2 separate regions of the Homo sapiens genome follow, and region 2 is linked to region 1. Evidence: fine-mapped expression QTL. Tissue or cell type: prefrontal cortex. Region 1 holds a variant in brackets; the other region holds the start of a gene. All regions are shown on one strand. Distances are from middle to middle.

Region 1 (7,941 bases):
CCACAGCCATCCCATGATGCAGTCCAATTACAGTGCTCTTTTTACAGATGAAAAACTAATATTCAAAAAGGGGAGGTGACTTGCCAAAGGTCACTCAATTGCTACATGCAGGAAGTAGGACTTGAACTCACATCTTTCCAACATCAAATCCCATGTTGTCTACCACAAGACGCTGCCTTTGTTATGTGTAAAATTTAACCTTGCTAAATGCATTTACTTAACAGTTTACTGAGACCTCCTGTATGTCAGGCATAGGTGCTAGGGTTACAGCGGTGAAGAAAACGGACTAAAATTCCTATCTTCATAGAGCTTCCATTCTATCTAGGAGGCTGATAGCTTAATTAAAAAGCAAGAAGTGGCATGTCAAACAATAGGAGCTTTGGAGGAAAAGCACAGAAGGGGGTCAGGGAGTGTCATTTTAAATAGGGTGGTCAGAGAAGACTCAATGAGATGGTGACATCAAAGCAAAGACCTGAACATCTCTGTTAGCTTTGTTCCCACAGGCAATTTTAGGCCTTCCCATCTTATAGCACATTGGAAGCAGAAGCTGGAAATACAAACTTTGAAACTTGGCCTCTGGAAGTGACAAGCAATGAGGAACCAGCAAAAGCAGCCAAATCACCAATTGCAGCATCATTTGGGGCTCTTTAGTATTAGAGCTAAGGGCCTGTCAACCCAACTAGCTCCAAGGCCTGGCCAGCTTACAGTCCAGGACAGTGAGTGAGAGTTACATGGAATTTGTCAGCAGTTTGCCTAGCAGTTGCCTCCAGTAGAGTGTAAGCACCTTGAGAGTAAGTTATGAGTCCTTCATGTGTCCCCTGCACCGAACACAGGTTCTGCCAGTGAATAGGTTCTTGACAAGCATTTGTTGAATGAATGAAAGGTGAACAGGATCCTAACAGACAGAAGAATGCTCTGACAACCACAGGACCCACCTTGCCTAGGCAGATAGCCCTGCCCTGGGTGCTTGGACAGGACACCCTTTTCCCAGGTCACAGTTTATTCTTCCCTTTTTGTCCTGGACTTCTTGCCAGCATGATCTTGCCTTAAGACACAGACTTCAGCTGACATTATACAGGTCCAACTTTAACTTCAGAATGAGATCTCCAACACTGTAGTTCCATGCACACCTGTGAGGTGTCTCTTGGGAGGAATCTTTCTGGAAAGTGTGGGCAGCACTTCGTCTGTACCCATCTATCTCAGAACCCACCAGTGACCTAAATGAACCCCAAGGGCACACCCAGTTGGGATAAGGCTGCCCCCATGAGTTGATTCGCCTCCACCACAAAACAATGTGGTTGAACAGAAGCAGCAAGAATTCCAGCTTCCCCAGTTCTGGTTTTGTTTCCATGGGGAAGTTACCTGAACTCTGTACTCTTCCCTCTTCTTTATAATGGGAATAGCAGTATTTCTTTTGCCTATTGGGTGTCTGTTAAGCTCTGGGGTTTTTGTTTTTCGCTTTTTTGCACGTGAGTGGCCAGGCACTGGGAACACAAGAAGGCATAAGAACTCAGTCCCTTCTCTCAAGGAATGCGGTGTGAAAGTTGCACCCATGGAGAACTGTGCAAGAATGCAGCTGAGCCGAGCAGAGGAGCAGTCACCTGGGCACATTTGCCGCAAGCAGCCTTTTCAACAAAGTGACATGACAGTCATTAAGACCAGAAGGGTGTGGCAATGAGAAGGGAGTCAGAGGGCAGCTCCCTTTTCCCTTGCTGCTCCTCCATCACGTGCTAACCCACACCCAGCTCCATCTTGCCTCCAGCTTTTTCTGGCTTCATTTCTGAGTATTTACCTAGGGTTCTGCTTAGCAGAGGAAGGGTTCTCCTAGCAGAGAGTGAGCACAAACAAGGTGATATTTAAACTGGATCTTGAAGGAGACACAGTTCATCATGTCAGGAAGCAGAGAAAGAGTCTTCCAGACAGGGAAACAGCAGAAGAGCACCCAGGAGCAGGGTTTCCAGGGAAACTGGCTGCCAGAGGGCAGGGCTTACAGGTGGAAAGGATGGAAGATTCACCTGGAAAATTCTGATCCAAAGATGGAACTTAGGGGGCCCCAAATATCACATCAGTGTCCCTTTTTTTCCCTTCCTTGGCTTCCTAGTGTTGGAAAGATAACACTAGTTACCAAAGAAGCTGGAAGAGCCTGTGGGAATTGGCCCAGCAAGAAGAGATGCGGTCCTGGGCAAAGCAGAGGCAGACGGGAGAGAGGAAGGATGGAGCAGGCGAGAAGTCTTTCAGGGATGAAACTGAAAGCCCTGTGGAGGTTTGCAAGAGTAGAGAATGCGAACTATCTGGTTTGCAGCAAAGCCCTGATAGAAAGGCAAAGCTTTGTCCTTAGTAATACAGACAGTCCCCAACTTACCATTTTTCAAATTTACAATGGTGTGAAAGTGATACACATTCAGTACAGTATTCAGTAAATTGCATGAGATATTTAACACTTTTTTATAAAATAGGCCTTGTGTTAGATGATATGGCCCAACTGTAAGTGTTCTGAGCACATTTAAGGTAGGCGAGGCTCAGCTAGGATATTTGGTAGGTTAGGTGGATTAAATGCATTTTTCAACTTACGATATTTTCAACTTACAATGGGTTTATGGGAATGTAACCCCATCGTAAGTCAAGGAGCATCTTTTCTGCTAGGGTATTTATAATAACCACCAAATCCTGGCCCAAAGCTCGAGAAAATTCATCTCCCTTGTTTATTCAAGTCTCCCTGGTCATTCCCAGGGCAGTAGCTGGTACATATGGGCCCTCATTAAATACCTGCTGGATTGCTGAATGGTTAGATGATTGGATGGACAGATCTTGGATTCAGAGAAAAATATGCTCCTGTCATCAGCTTTTTTAGCCAAAGCAAGTCCAAGGAACTTTCTGGTAAGC[G/C]CCCAGCTACCCTTCACTAACACTCCTCCCTCTCCTTCTCTTCAGCATCCAGCGTCGGCTGTCCCTCCAGCTCCCCATCCTCCACCACGCCTACCTCCCATCCATCGGAGGCGTGGACGCCAGCTGTGTCAGCCCCTGCGTCAGCCCCACCGCCAGCCCCCGCCACAGACATGTGCCACCCTCCTTCCGAGTCATGGTCTCGGGCCTGTAAGGGTGGGAGGCCTGGGCCCGGGGCCTCCCCCGTGACAGAACCACACTGGGCAGAGGGGTCTGCTGCAGAAACACTGTCGGCTCTGGCTGCGGAGAAGCTGGGCACCATGGCTGGCCTCTCAGGACCACTCGGATGGCACTCAGGTGGACAGGACGGGGCAGGGGGAGACTTGGCACCTGACCTCGAGCCTTATTTGTGAAGTCCTTATTTCTTCACAAAGAAGAGGAACGGAAATGGGACGTCTTCCTTAACATCTGCAAACAAGGAGGCGCTGGGATATCAAACTTGCAAAAAAAAAAAAAAAAAAAAAAAAACAAAAAAACTAGACAAGGAGAGAGGCACTAGAACTCCAGCTGGAAGTCACGGAGTGGCTCGAGCAGCCTTGGGAAGAGGCAAGGAGCTTCTGAAGAAACTGCCTCTGCACACACATCACTGGCTGTGACCCCTCAGGCTAGCCCTTCTCCACTCTGGGGGAGGAGGTGGGAAGGGCCACCAGGCCCCCAGCTGCCAGGCCAGCTGACCCCAGCCTTCCTGGAACAGGGAGTCTGCAGGAGCGCAGACAGGCACAGCCCTGGAGCAGGCAGGCCGAGGGCTGCGGCACTGGAGCAGGCTGACTTACATGCTCCACATGGGACCTGTGTCACCCAATGAGATGTTTGTTACTCTGGTAAATGCCACACGTTAACACAATAACACCCATTCCTGGGACCGTGGGGATTTAGGGCACGTCACTGCAGACACGCTCTGCAGCATTCACCGACAGTCTGTCATGCACCCACCACGTTGGCCATGTCCTTGTGTTCCTATCGGATGCTCCCAGTAACCAGGGGGACCACCCGAGCTAATCATGGAATGTCTGTTCCCAGCAAACACGATAAAGAAAGATTGTGCACTTTAACCTCTCTCATCAGGGCCCAAGGGCTGGCTGGGATTTTTTTTTTTTTTTTCCCACTAACTTTGTTTCTGACCAAAGTGAATTGGAGGCACTCTGCTAAAAGACATCCCCGTAGACATAGGGGAGAGAGTTGCTGGCTGAGGGCTTCCCTTGGCTTCCAGAAGGCAGCCTTCCATCCAGACAAGCCAGTGAGCTCTCCCCTTGGGATCACTGGGGTGATCAGTCAGCAGATTGATTCTCATTCATAAGATCATTCCTCCCTTTAAATTGAGCCCCTAAGAGCACTGGCCTGGGAGTCAGACAGACCTGGGTTCAAGTCCTCAGTCCCCTGCCCACTCCCTACGTGACTTTGATCAGGTCACTAGTGTCTCTCTGAGCCTCAGTTTCCCCTCTGTAACTTGGGGTTGAACTAAAACACCTGTCCTGCCTACCTCACAAGGTCACTCTGAGGATTGAAACTTGATCTTGTCCAGGAAAGCTTTGTACCAAACAGTGAAGCCGCCCTGATCCGTGAGGTATGAGTATGACTCTGACCTTCAGCCCTCCCTACAGCCGGGGGTGTGGCCCAGAGAAGCTTCCAGCACAGCCCTCTACCCAGAACATCCGGGCTGGAGGGAGGCTCCCAGTGACTTTTCTGACATTCCTAGACAGGTTCATTCTTTGCTCAAGAAAGGCCTGAATGACAATGTCCAGGATGTCTGCACAACTGAGCAGCTCGCTCACTCCCTAAAGAAACCTATTGGCAGCTTCAACAGGCAGGCAATAATCTCTTCCCAGAACCACTGCAGTCAGGAATAAACTGTTTTCTCCACCAGGCTTTGACAAAAGGGCCCACAGGAATCTTACCAATGCCAACATTTCAAAGCACCCTATTTCACGTAGCATAGCTTTCTGCTCCCCTTCCCCAAAGAGAGGTTATGGAGGTACTGTAGCTTTTAGGGAAAAAAAAATGTTAACACATCACAGGTCAAGTTGAAGTCATTCTCTGTTTAGGCACTAAAAATCGGTGTTGTCACTCACTGTGTATTACCAGTATTTACTTGCTTTCTTGATTTCACCAAAACCAAATTTAATTTAAAGGACCACATTAATTTTTCAAAGGGAAAGAGACAATTAATTGTACATAATGTATACACACACACAAAAAAAAATACCTGTAGAAATATTATTCCAGCATAGCAGGAAAACAAACAAAAGTATTGGACTGTCGGAGGTGAGCCTGTGCGTCTGTAACCCTTTGTGACTCCTGAGCGTGCGCTGTCTTCTAGGTTAACTCACGAAGTACATTCTCTGTCTTACTGATACTGTAGGTTCACCCATTTTTTTTTAATTTCCTCGCAAATAACAAGACCCACAGAAGTGACTCTAGCTACTTAATGGTTCTGTTCTTTTATATGCAGCAAACACACCGTCCATTTCTGAAGAGGCTTCGGCCTGAAGGCATTTTCCAATGATGTTAGTGCACAAAACGCTTTAAATTAGACTGGAACTGCCAGAATCAAATGTAAATGAGGAATTTCTCGTACCCCTACTGCATGGTATCGATTTTTAATAAATTGTTGCAAATTTGTTTTTATGAATAAAAGGAAAAAACCTGTCGTCTTTAATGCCTACTCATCCCAAAATGCAGGTCAGATCGGGCCATATTCCTCCGCTTAGAAACTCAGGGGACAATTCTGGGGTTGCCTGCTCAGCATTGTCCCTTCCTTCATAAACTGCCCATCCCAGCCTCCTGCTGACAGCGGCAAAGCAGCCCTGTTACCAGGTGACCCCAACTTCTGGCCACAGCTGATTAATTCGAGGGTGGGAATTTGACCTAGGCTGGGCCGGTAAATCACTTCCTCAGGATTCCTCCATGTAGAGAAATTTAGTCTGCGATGAAACAGAAAAAAAAAAAAATGGAGCCAACAGAGAGACAATCAGGACCAACAGCTGAGTTCTGATGGTGTCTGAGTACCTGGTTAGCGGTCCCTTCCTGCGCTCCTCTGAAAGCACAGCCCTGATTTTGGGGTAAGGAAGGGGACCTATTGGAAGGGAATCTTGCTCCCACCATCCTTGCTCCCACCCCCGGACACAGTGATTGGTTCAGGAATATGCTCATTATCCAGGACCAGCCAATCAGAGCACTTCCCAGGGTTTCTGCCAGCTGTTTTCAGGAGGTTTGAAGGCACTCTGGGCCCTCCTCACCTGCTCAGTTGTTCAGGACTTCCTTGGATTCTCTGTTCTTCTGATACATTGCCCTTTTTGCCGAGGTTAGTTCAAGTTGGGTTCCCATCACTTGCAATCCCAAGATTCTTAAATAATATGGAAAACCCACAACCTCTCCAGCCCCAACTCCCCTTCGGGGCCTTGCCAGCCTGTCGAGATTTGGCCCCATGCTCCTTTCTAGCCTCATCATCCCACCCCCCGGAGCCTATGGAGCCACCCCAAAGTCTGTTTTACTTCTCCAGGGTGCTGAGCCTCAGCCGGCAGCTCCGACTAGATCCCCTTCAATGGGATCTTCTCTTCCTAGCTCTGGACTGAGGACATTCCCCCTCTCTACAGCACTGCATACATGCCCACGCTGTCCCCTCCCCATTCCGGACCCTGAGCTCCCTGACGATGGGACTCATGTCTGCTTCCATGACGTTCCACTGGGCAGCAGTTCCTCCCTGTAGCTCAGAATGGGCTTCAACGAGGCTTTTCATAATTGAACATTTTGACAGAGGCTTGTCCACACTGGTTGCTGGGTCTAGAAGGCAGAGTAAAAGCAGAGGTGGCCACAGCAGGCTGGGGAGGCCCGAGGTTCATGTGACTGGGTGCAGTCCTAGAAATGGGTGCACTGGACTCACAGACTCCACTGGAGGGCTAGTCCCAGCCTGGAGTTTTCCGGGACATGGGATCCTCAACGTGGAGGCTCCCAAGGAGCAGGCTCTCTGAATCCTGGCCCAGGAGACCCCTGCTCTGTGCCTGCTGCTCCACACCACTGCTCATACAGCCATCCTACGGGATGTGGGTTGTTCAAGGATGGGAAACAGGCCCAACATGAAGAATACGTACCCAAGGCCACCTAATAAGGCTGTGGCAAAGGCAGGAACAACCAGAATCTTAGCTGGTCTTCCTTCTCTACCTGACCCTGACTCACAGAAATTAGAGCAGAGAAAGGTGGCAGCGGTCATCTCACCCAGCCCCTCCTAGTACAGTTGGGGAAACGGAGGCCCAGCAACTGGAGCCAAGGTCAACCAGAAGGTCACGAGAGGGCCAGCATGGAACCCAGATGTCCTGGTTTTGAGACTTGGCTCTTCTCAGTCCACTTCCCACACCTGTTCTGCCATAGGTAGTACGACCACAGCGGTGAGACGCTGCCCCATAGAGCAATTTCTCAGCTACCACAGACTGAGAAATCTTTACATAGCCTCACTAAATATGGAGTCAGCCAAGACAACATTTGGTCTTTCCTCTTAGCACGTCTGAAAGAGAGAAATGACCCAAGTGTTGAAGATGCTCCTTGTCACATCACTGAAGTGATGCCTTGCTTGGCCATAAGCAGGAAAAGCCCAGACAGCAATGGTGCACTTCATTCCTCTTCATTCTTCTTCAAAAGCATTCTGTCTTCCTTTTGTTATGACTGGGTCATTTCTGAGTTAAAAATAAAAGAGTGTTTCCCAACCTCAAAGACAGGCTTTCTGGAGTTGAAGCCCTCTTAGAAAGCTCTGCCTGGGGGTCTCCTCACCCTGGGGTGTGGAGACAACACTGGGGTCCACTCTGAGGGAAGAAGGGGAGAGGTTTCTGAAAACATTAAGCCTGGGGCACCAGCCGAGGCCTGCCCTTCCAGGCAGTTTCCTGTGCTCAGCAATTTCTTCTCTACAAGGATCAGGATCCACAGGCCTAGAAGCCAGTGCCAGGGAGAGGAGGTGGTACTGGGTAGATTGCAAAAAGCAGACTGGCGGCCATCAGCACCTCTGCCTGTCCA
Region 2 (6,471 bases), 420 kb before region 1:
TATGTAAACCATACACACACACACACACTCTCTCTCTCACACACACACACACAATTGCAGCTCCACCCTTCCAGTCTCAATCCTATATATTAGTTTGGTACAAAAGTAATTGCAGTTTTTACCATTACTTTCAATGGCAAAAACTGCAATTACTTTTGCACCAACCTTATATCAACTATATATATATAGTTTGTTTTGTTTTAAAGAAGAAAGTGAGAGAAGACCTTGCTGCTGTTAGGAGTTAGAGTAGAGGCAGGCATGGATAACAATCAAATGGGGAAAAGGGTGTTAAAAACTGGACCCAGTTCCTGGAAGGAGGCAGCTCTGGAGGGCAGATCTGAGCAGCCCTGGGTGGCACAGGGTGTCAGCCCAATAAGGAAGGAGAGCAGACAGCAGAGAAAGGCCTGGTTAGCTTCCCAGCATCAGGATCCTGTTCAAAGGGATGGAGTGTCATGTTGACAGGGAGCCAGCTGGACCATGGAGCCCCAAAATCCCCAGAAAGGAAGCGGGCACCATCTCTCAACCTCTGAGCTGGGGTTTAGAGACTGGCTTCTGTGTGTAGGCAGAGGGTTTGTGAGAAAAGATTGCTAAGGAAACAGGATTATGCAAACAAGATAATAATTTAAGCCATACAGACCTGGGCTAACACGGATGTTTCATTACTTCCTGGAGGTGCAACCTGAGCACGTTGCTTTCTAAGTCTCTATTACATCTCTTAAAAGGTAGATGAGTTCAAGGGAATCAAGTGTTTTCCACATTCTGGGACTTGGCCAATGCATTTTATTCCAATTAATAAGAAGCACAATGATTAGCCAATTCTCATCCTCTCTTCTGCTTATACCCTGGCCTGGCCACCAAATGTGCTTATTGTAGTAGAGACTCCTAACAGGTATTCCTGCTCACGCTCTTTTCCCCTGCTAACGGTTCTTCACTCTACAGCCAGAGTGATCCTCTTAAAATACATCAGATCATGTCACTGCTCCACCCAGTAGCCTCCCACGGTTGCTGTTTCATGTGCCCTCCCAGTGCTGAGGCCCCATACAGTCCTACCTGCCTTTGACCTTGGATCTGATTGCTTTCCCTTTGCCCACTCTGCTCTACCACATTGGCTTCCACATTGTTCCTTGAACATGCCAGGCACACTCCTGTCTCGGAGCCTCTGCCCTTGCTGTTCCTCTGCATGGAACACTATTCGCCTGTCTCTCTTACTTACCTTCTTTATGTCTTTGCTGAGGAGTCACCTTAGTGTGTCTTTCCCTGACCTCCCTATTTCAAATTGCAGCCCCACTCTGCCAGTCTCAATCCTCTTTCCTGCTTTTTTGTTCACCATAGCACTTTTCATAAATGGGCATACTAACATATCTTCTTCTTCCTATTTATTGTTTCTCTTTCTCCACTAGAATGTCAATTCTACAAGGGCAGGGATTTTGTTCTGGTTTTTTCCTTCCTATATCATCAGCTCCTAGGACAGTGCCTAGCAGGTAGCATGCCCTTCAAAACACTGGTCAAAGGAATGAATGATTATTATAAAGCAAGACGCTGGACCCCAGCTCTGGAGGAACATGCATTCTAGGCTGGTGACTGAGGCAGGAACTCAGACTCAGGAAGCACATCAGGGATGCAGTTACCCAAACTGTAATACCAGGCCAGAGTAAGATCTTGGAACCAGAGGGATGCCCAGGCATTAGGAGTGGGCTGTGAGATCAGAGATTGGCCTGGAGCCATGCTGATGGAGAGTGAGATTGGTGCCCCCTGGGTCAGGGCAGATCCCAGGTCATGCGTCTTGGGGCCAGGTCACCCCACCATAAAAGAAGACAGAGGGGCTGTAGGGCAGGATGCCAGGTAGGGCCTTCAACCCCTTAGTAAATGTCAGGCAAAGTTACCCAGCTTTCAACTTATTCCCAGATGTAGGTGTCAGTGGACACTCTATATTGGCACAGCTTGCAAGGAGGACACAAATGACTAAAGGAAAGAATTAGAAAAAAGAAAAAAACCAAGTGAAAATGTTCATTCAGAAACCTGAGCTAAGGGTTTGAGGAATGGCAGGTGCCAGAAGACTATGACTGGAGGATATTTGTGATGTCAAGTGAGACAGCAGTTGAGCGAGTATCTGGGGATTACACTGTCCTTTGGACCATTTCTTTCCCTCCCTCCCTTCCTTCCTCCCTTCCTGGAGGAGATGCTCAGGTGAGTTCTGTTCATGCAAACCCTCCAGCTTGGGGAAAAGGAAATGCCAAGTGGAGCCGGGAGAGGTGGAGTCTATAGAAGCCTGGAAAGAGAAGTTAGGGCAGAGAGAATTTGGCCTGGTTTCCCTGGCGCTGTCCAAGGTACTCTCTAGTAGTTCTGCTCAGCCTCCACTCACATCTTTGTGCTTCCTAACAACTCAGCCTGGATTCAGAGCTGCCCTTGCCTCACTCCAGTAGAGCTGGTGTGTGGCCATCATCATCATCATCCGGTCCAAATCCCTCACCATATGCCGGAGGGAATCGATGTCCAGAGCAACTGAGTCAGGGCAGTGCTCCTCCTGGAGAGGAAACTTGCAGTCCCACATCCCTGGCTCCCACTGCACTGTGCACGGAGTTCCTGCTGGCTCTGGGTTCCGGTCCTTCAGTAGCTCTGTGTGCTTCCACTAGCTACAGAACCTCTCTGAGCACCAGTGTATTCGCCTGTAAAGTAAGGGTGAGTAACACAGTATGCTTACAGGGCAGTTGTGGGGATTACATCATAAGGCACACAGTAAGTACTCAGCGAAGGTCAAACTTCCATTCTTGTTACAAGGTCGTCGATATCTTCCACAGTCCCTGGTTCAGGCTCAAGTATGTTTTGTGATTTGATGTCCTACTGTGTTCCTCGCATTAATCAGCCCCTGGGACTTTATAGATTAATGATCACGTTTCCTATTCTTGAAGTATGCAGAGGCACAAGGAACCCAAGGTCTTAGGTCAGCTCACTCGGGTACATCTGGCTCGGGACTGCTTTGGCTAAGATTGGCCAGTGCGACCTGGCAGAGAGAGGGCCAAGTCCAGGGGCGCGCGGCCCCGCCCTGGCCTGAGGATAGTGCTCCCACCCCGGGAGACTTCTAGGGCGGGGCCCATCAAGAATGGGGACGCGGGGAGGTCAAATGCCTGGAGGGGGCGGTAGCGCACGTAAGGTTGGGACCCCAGCTTTGCTTGGGGTTGGCAAAGGGCGGTCGCTCCGTCTGGTGGGGAGGAAAGGGGTGTCCTCAGCCAAGGCCCTAAAGGCCGGGCAGCCTGGCACCAACGGGCGTTCGAGCACCCGTGGGCGTCTTCAGCGACCCCCGGGACTCGGTCAGGGGCTCGTGGGCGCCAGAAAAGAACGGGAGAGCGTAGGCTGCAGATGCCTCTGGGACGCCTTCGTGGAACATTCTCCTGCCCAGACCTTCCCGGCCAGACCTCCGAGAAGCGGTTCCAAACCACCGTGCAGGTGCTACAGGCAGCGCTCGGCGGAGCGGCGGCGGCCACTGCGTGTGCCAGCGCGCGGTCCCGGTTCCCAGATCGCTGTCCCCGGGCGCTCTGGTGCCTGGAGGTCAGCGGTCGGCGGGCAGCGGCAGCTGGCGCAGCGGAGGGCCGGGGGCGCGTGTGTGCGTGTGCTGGGAAGGTGGCCCTCCCCGCGGCCGCCGCAGCGCCAGCGCCTCCCCCTCCCCCGGCGCGCACGGCTCGTCCCCGTCCCTGGAGGCGGCCCGAGCCGCCCCTGAGCAGCCTCGCCTTCGCCTCCCGCGTTTCCTGCCGTCCGCCCTCCCCCGGCCGAGCTCCAGGGGCTGCCGCCTAGCAGCTCCCGGCGGGAGAGCGGTTCAGAGCGCGCACGGGGGCGGGCGGAGGCGGCCCGGTGCGGGGCGGCCGCGCTGGAGAGAGGCGCGCGCGGAGACGCCGGCCCCCCTCTCCGCGTTTGCTCGCTTGCTCCCCGCCTCCCGCACTCCGCTCGCTCCCACCCCTTCCCGGCGTGATTGATCCGTCACGGGCGCCGCCGCTGCCGCCGCCGCCGCCGCGGCCGTTCTGAGCCGAGCCGGAACCCTAGCCCGAGACGGAGCCGGGGCCCGGGCCGGCGCCATTGCGCGGGCGCCGCGGGAAGACCTTGGCGCGGGGCGGCGGGCCGGGCCAGGCCATGCGGGCCGAGTGAGCCGGCGCCCGCAGCCCGCGGCGCGGCATGGCTTCCCCGCGGAGCTCCGGGCAGCCCGGGCCGCCGCCGCCGCCGCCACCGCCGCCCGCGCGCCTGCTACTGCTACTGCTGCTGCCGCTGCTGCTGCCTCTGGCGCCCGGGGCCTGGGGCTGGGCGCGGGGCGCCCCCCGGCCGCCGCCCAGCAGCCCGCCGCTCTCCATCATGGGCCTCATGCCGCTCACCAAGGAGGTGGCCAAGGGCAGCATCGGGCGCGGTGTGCTCCCCGCCGTGGAACTGGCCATCGAGCAGATCCGCAACGAGTCACTCCTGCGCCCCTACTTCCTCGACCTGCGGCTCTATGACACGGAGGTGAGTGTCCGGCTGCCCCTGCCGTCGGGGCTTCGGGGGGCATTGGGGTGGGTGGTTTGGACACAGGCAACCTCCGGCCTTTGGTCAGATCCCCGATTGACCGGCCCGCGCCTGCCGAGGGCAGAGAGGGCTGGTGCCCAGTGTTCACCCCCGCGGTCCTGCTGGGCTTGGCTGGCACAGCTGGTAACATTTGCCAAGCACCCCCTCCTCTGGTCTTATGTGTGTATGTGTGTGTGGGGAGGGGTGGGGGTGGGATAGAAGACTGGGGTCTCTTTTGACCAGAGAAAAAGGAGTGGAGAAGGTGGGGGCTGGACCCCCAAAGGCCTACATTGATTGTCCCTGTCCAGGTCCCGCTCATGGGGCTGCGAGGTACCGAGTGGGAGGAACAGGCGCATTGACTGCAAACTGGGCCACCCAGGGCCGGAGGGGCCGCGGGCCTGCTCACAGGCCCCCAGGGAAGCCGAGCCGCGCTTTGAGGTCCGGAAGGCTCCGGAACCCAAGGGGCTTGAGCGTGCAGCGTGGCTGGGCGCCTGGTGCGCGCCAGCAGCTCTGAGCCCGCTCCGCGCGGGCAAGTGTGGGGCCACCGGCTCTGCAGCGCTTCTGCCTGGACGTGCCCGGCGCTGCCTGTGGCCAGAGCGATTTCAGGAGACCCCTGCCTCGGGTTAGTTGCTCAGAAAGTGCCCTGGCAGTTCTCGTCCCGGACGTGCAGTGGTGTCCGGCCGCGCCGCTGCTGTTGGCCGGGCGGCTGCAGGCAGTTTCTCACGGCTCAGGCTTGAAGCATCCGACCTAGCAGCCGGAGCACAGACTTGGAGAGCAGTCCGGAGCGGAGCCAGAGAGCCAAGGGCTTTCCATCCCAAGACCCCTCCCCACGCCCTCGGTTTGGGTTCTGCCTGAAGCCCCAGAGCGGACCTTCACCGCCAGGCCGGGGCTGGAGCGCGCGGAGCGGGTCTGGAGGAGCGATCGCTGGCCGCGCAAGGTCGGGTTTGCGAGTTTTTCCGGACCGAGCGAGCCCCTGTGCTCCGACCGCAGCGTCTGAGACGCGGCCTGAAGGGGGCAGTGATTTCCTGTGCAGTACGCTCGGTTGGCGCCTCTTCCATCGCGCGGAACGGGGCCGAGGCGCTGGGCTTGATCCTGGCTTCCTGGGACTCTCCGGGCGCTTCTGCTGGAGTCCAGGTGCAGAACCCTTTTGGGAGGAGGGTCGCGCTACTGCTCTGGTGGTGCAATCTGGGCTTCCCCTCCTCCTTGGTCGGACCCTCTTTATGTCCCCAGAGAAAGAGCAGAATCTAGATTGTATCTTATTCCCTGCCTCCCCCGCTTCACCGGTGAACCAGCTTGCTCTGCGCTGTAAATAAAAGGTGAAGGAACCGGTGGCAGTTGGCAGCGGTACGCGCAGGCTGCTGCAGGCGGAGAGGCGTCCTCTGCCCCAGAGGATGCAAGCTGGCTGGCTGTGCAGGGCTAACCCGGTGTGAAATCATTTCCGAATGACATTCCTATCGCCCTCGTCTTTGCCTGAGCATCTCAAGTTCTGTGGGGGTACTTGTCTGGCACACATAAATGGAGACAGCAATGCAGTTACACGGAGGCATATCTTCTTGACAGTTTCTCTGTTGCTACTGCACATATTCTTCTGGAGGGGTCACTGCAAAGCCGGTCTTTTGGGGACAAACACATTTTTAGATAGGGCAGCCCTGCTTGCATCATCACCAAGTATTGTCAGCTGCATAATGTTTTCATCATCAGTTTCTTCCCTTTAGAAAGCTTCCCTGAAAGAGATTTCATACTGGCCTGTTTGTGGCAGCAAAGAGATGGGTGCTTCGTTTCAGGGTGTGGGTTGAAGCCTTTACATTTTATTTTTCGAGTGTGTCTTGATGACTTTCTGAGTGAAAGGACCCAAAGTCAAGAGGATGAGACAGTCAGAAGACTCTTCAATTCGTGGGAATATTTAGAAAACAGTGGGAAGGAAGACAGAAGATAATTTTAGCTTCG

Direction of the effects. Positions count from the first base shown, and alleles are read on the strand shown. Sizes are in standard deviations (SD) of each study's normalised expression.
As copies of C replace G in region 1, the expression in prefrontal cortex of the gene that starts at base 3,967 in region 2 goes down (small effect, 0.15 SD a copy in ROSMAP).

Evidence for each region. PIP is the estimated chance that this variant, and not a neighbour inherited with it, causes the effect.
Region 2: GABBR2 starts here. The variant in region 1 is fine-mapped to the expression of GABBR2 in prefrontal cortex (ROSMAP, PIP 0.94).

Annotation. Positions count from the first base shown.
Region 1 is chr9:98,285,737-98,293,677 of GRCh38, reverse strand. It overlaps GABBR2 (gamma-aminobutyric acid type B receptor subunit 2), which reads left to right. Exons shown (of 19, transcript NM_005458.8): 19 at 2,929-5,569. The coding sequence ends at 3,094. Among named protein-coding and RNA genes, the nearest start is that of TBC1D2, 34 kb to the right of the region's middle. The variant G/C (reference allele first, on the strand shown) is at 2,884.
Region 2 is chr9:98,706,431-98,712,901 of GRCh38, reverse strand. GABBR2 (gamma-aminobutyric acid type B receptor subunit 2) reads left to right here and starts at 3,967. Exons shown (of 19, transcript NM_005458.8): 1 at 3,967-4,485. The coding sequence starts at 4,165. RefSeq lists enhancers at 2,581-2,875, 4,628-5,198, 5,770-6,341.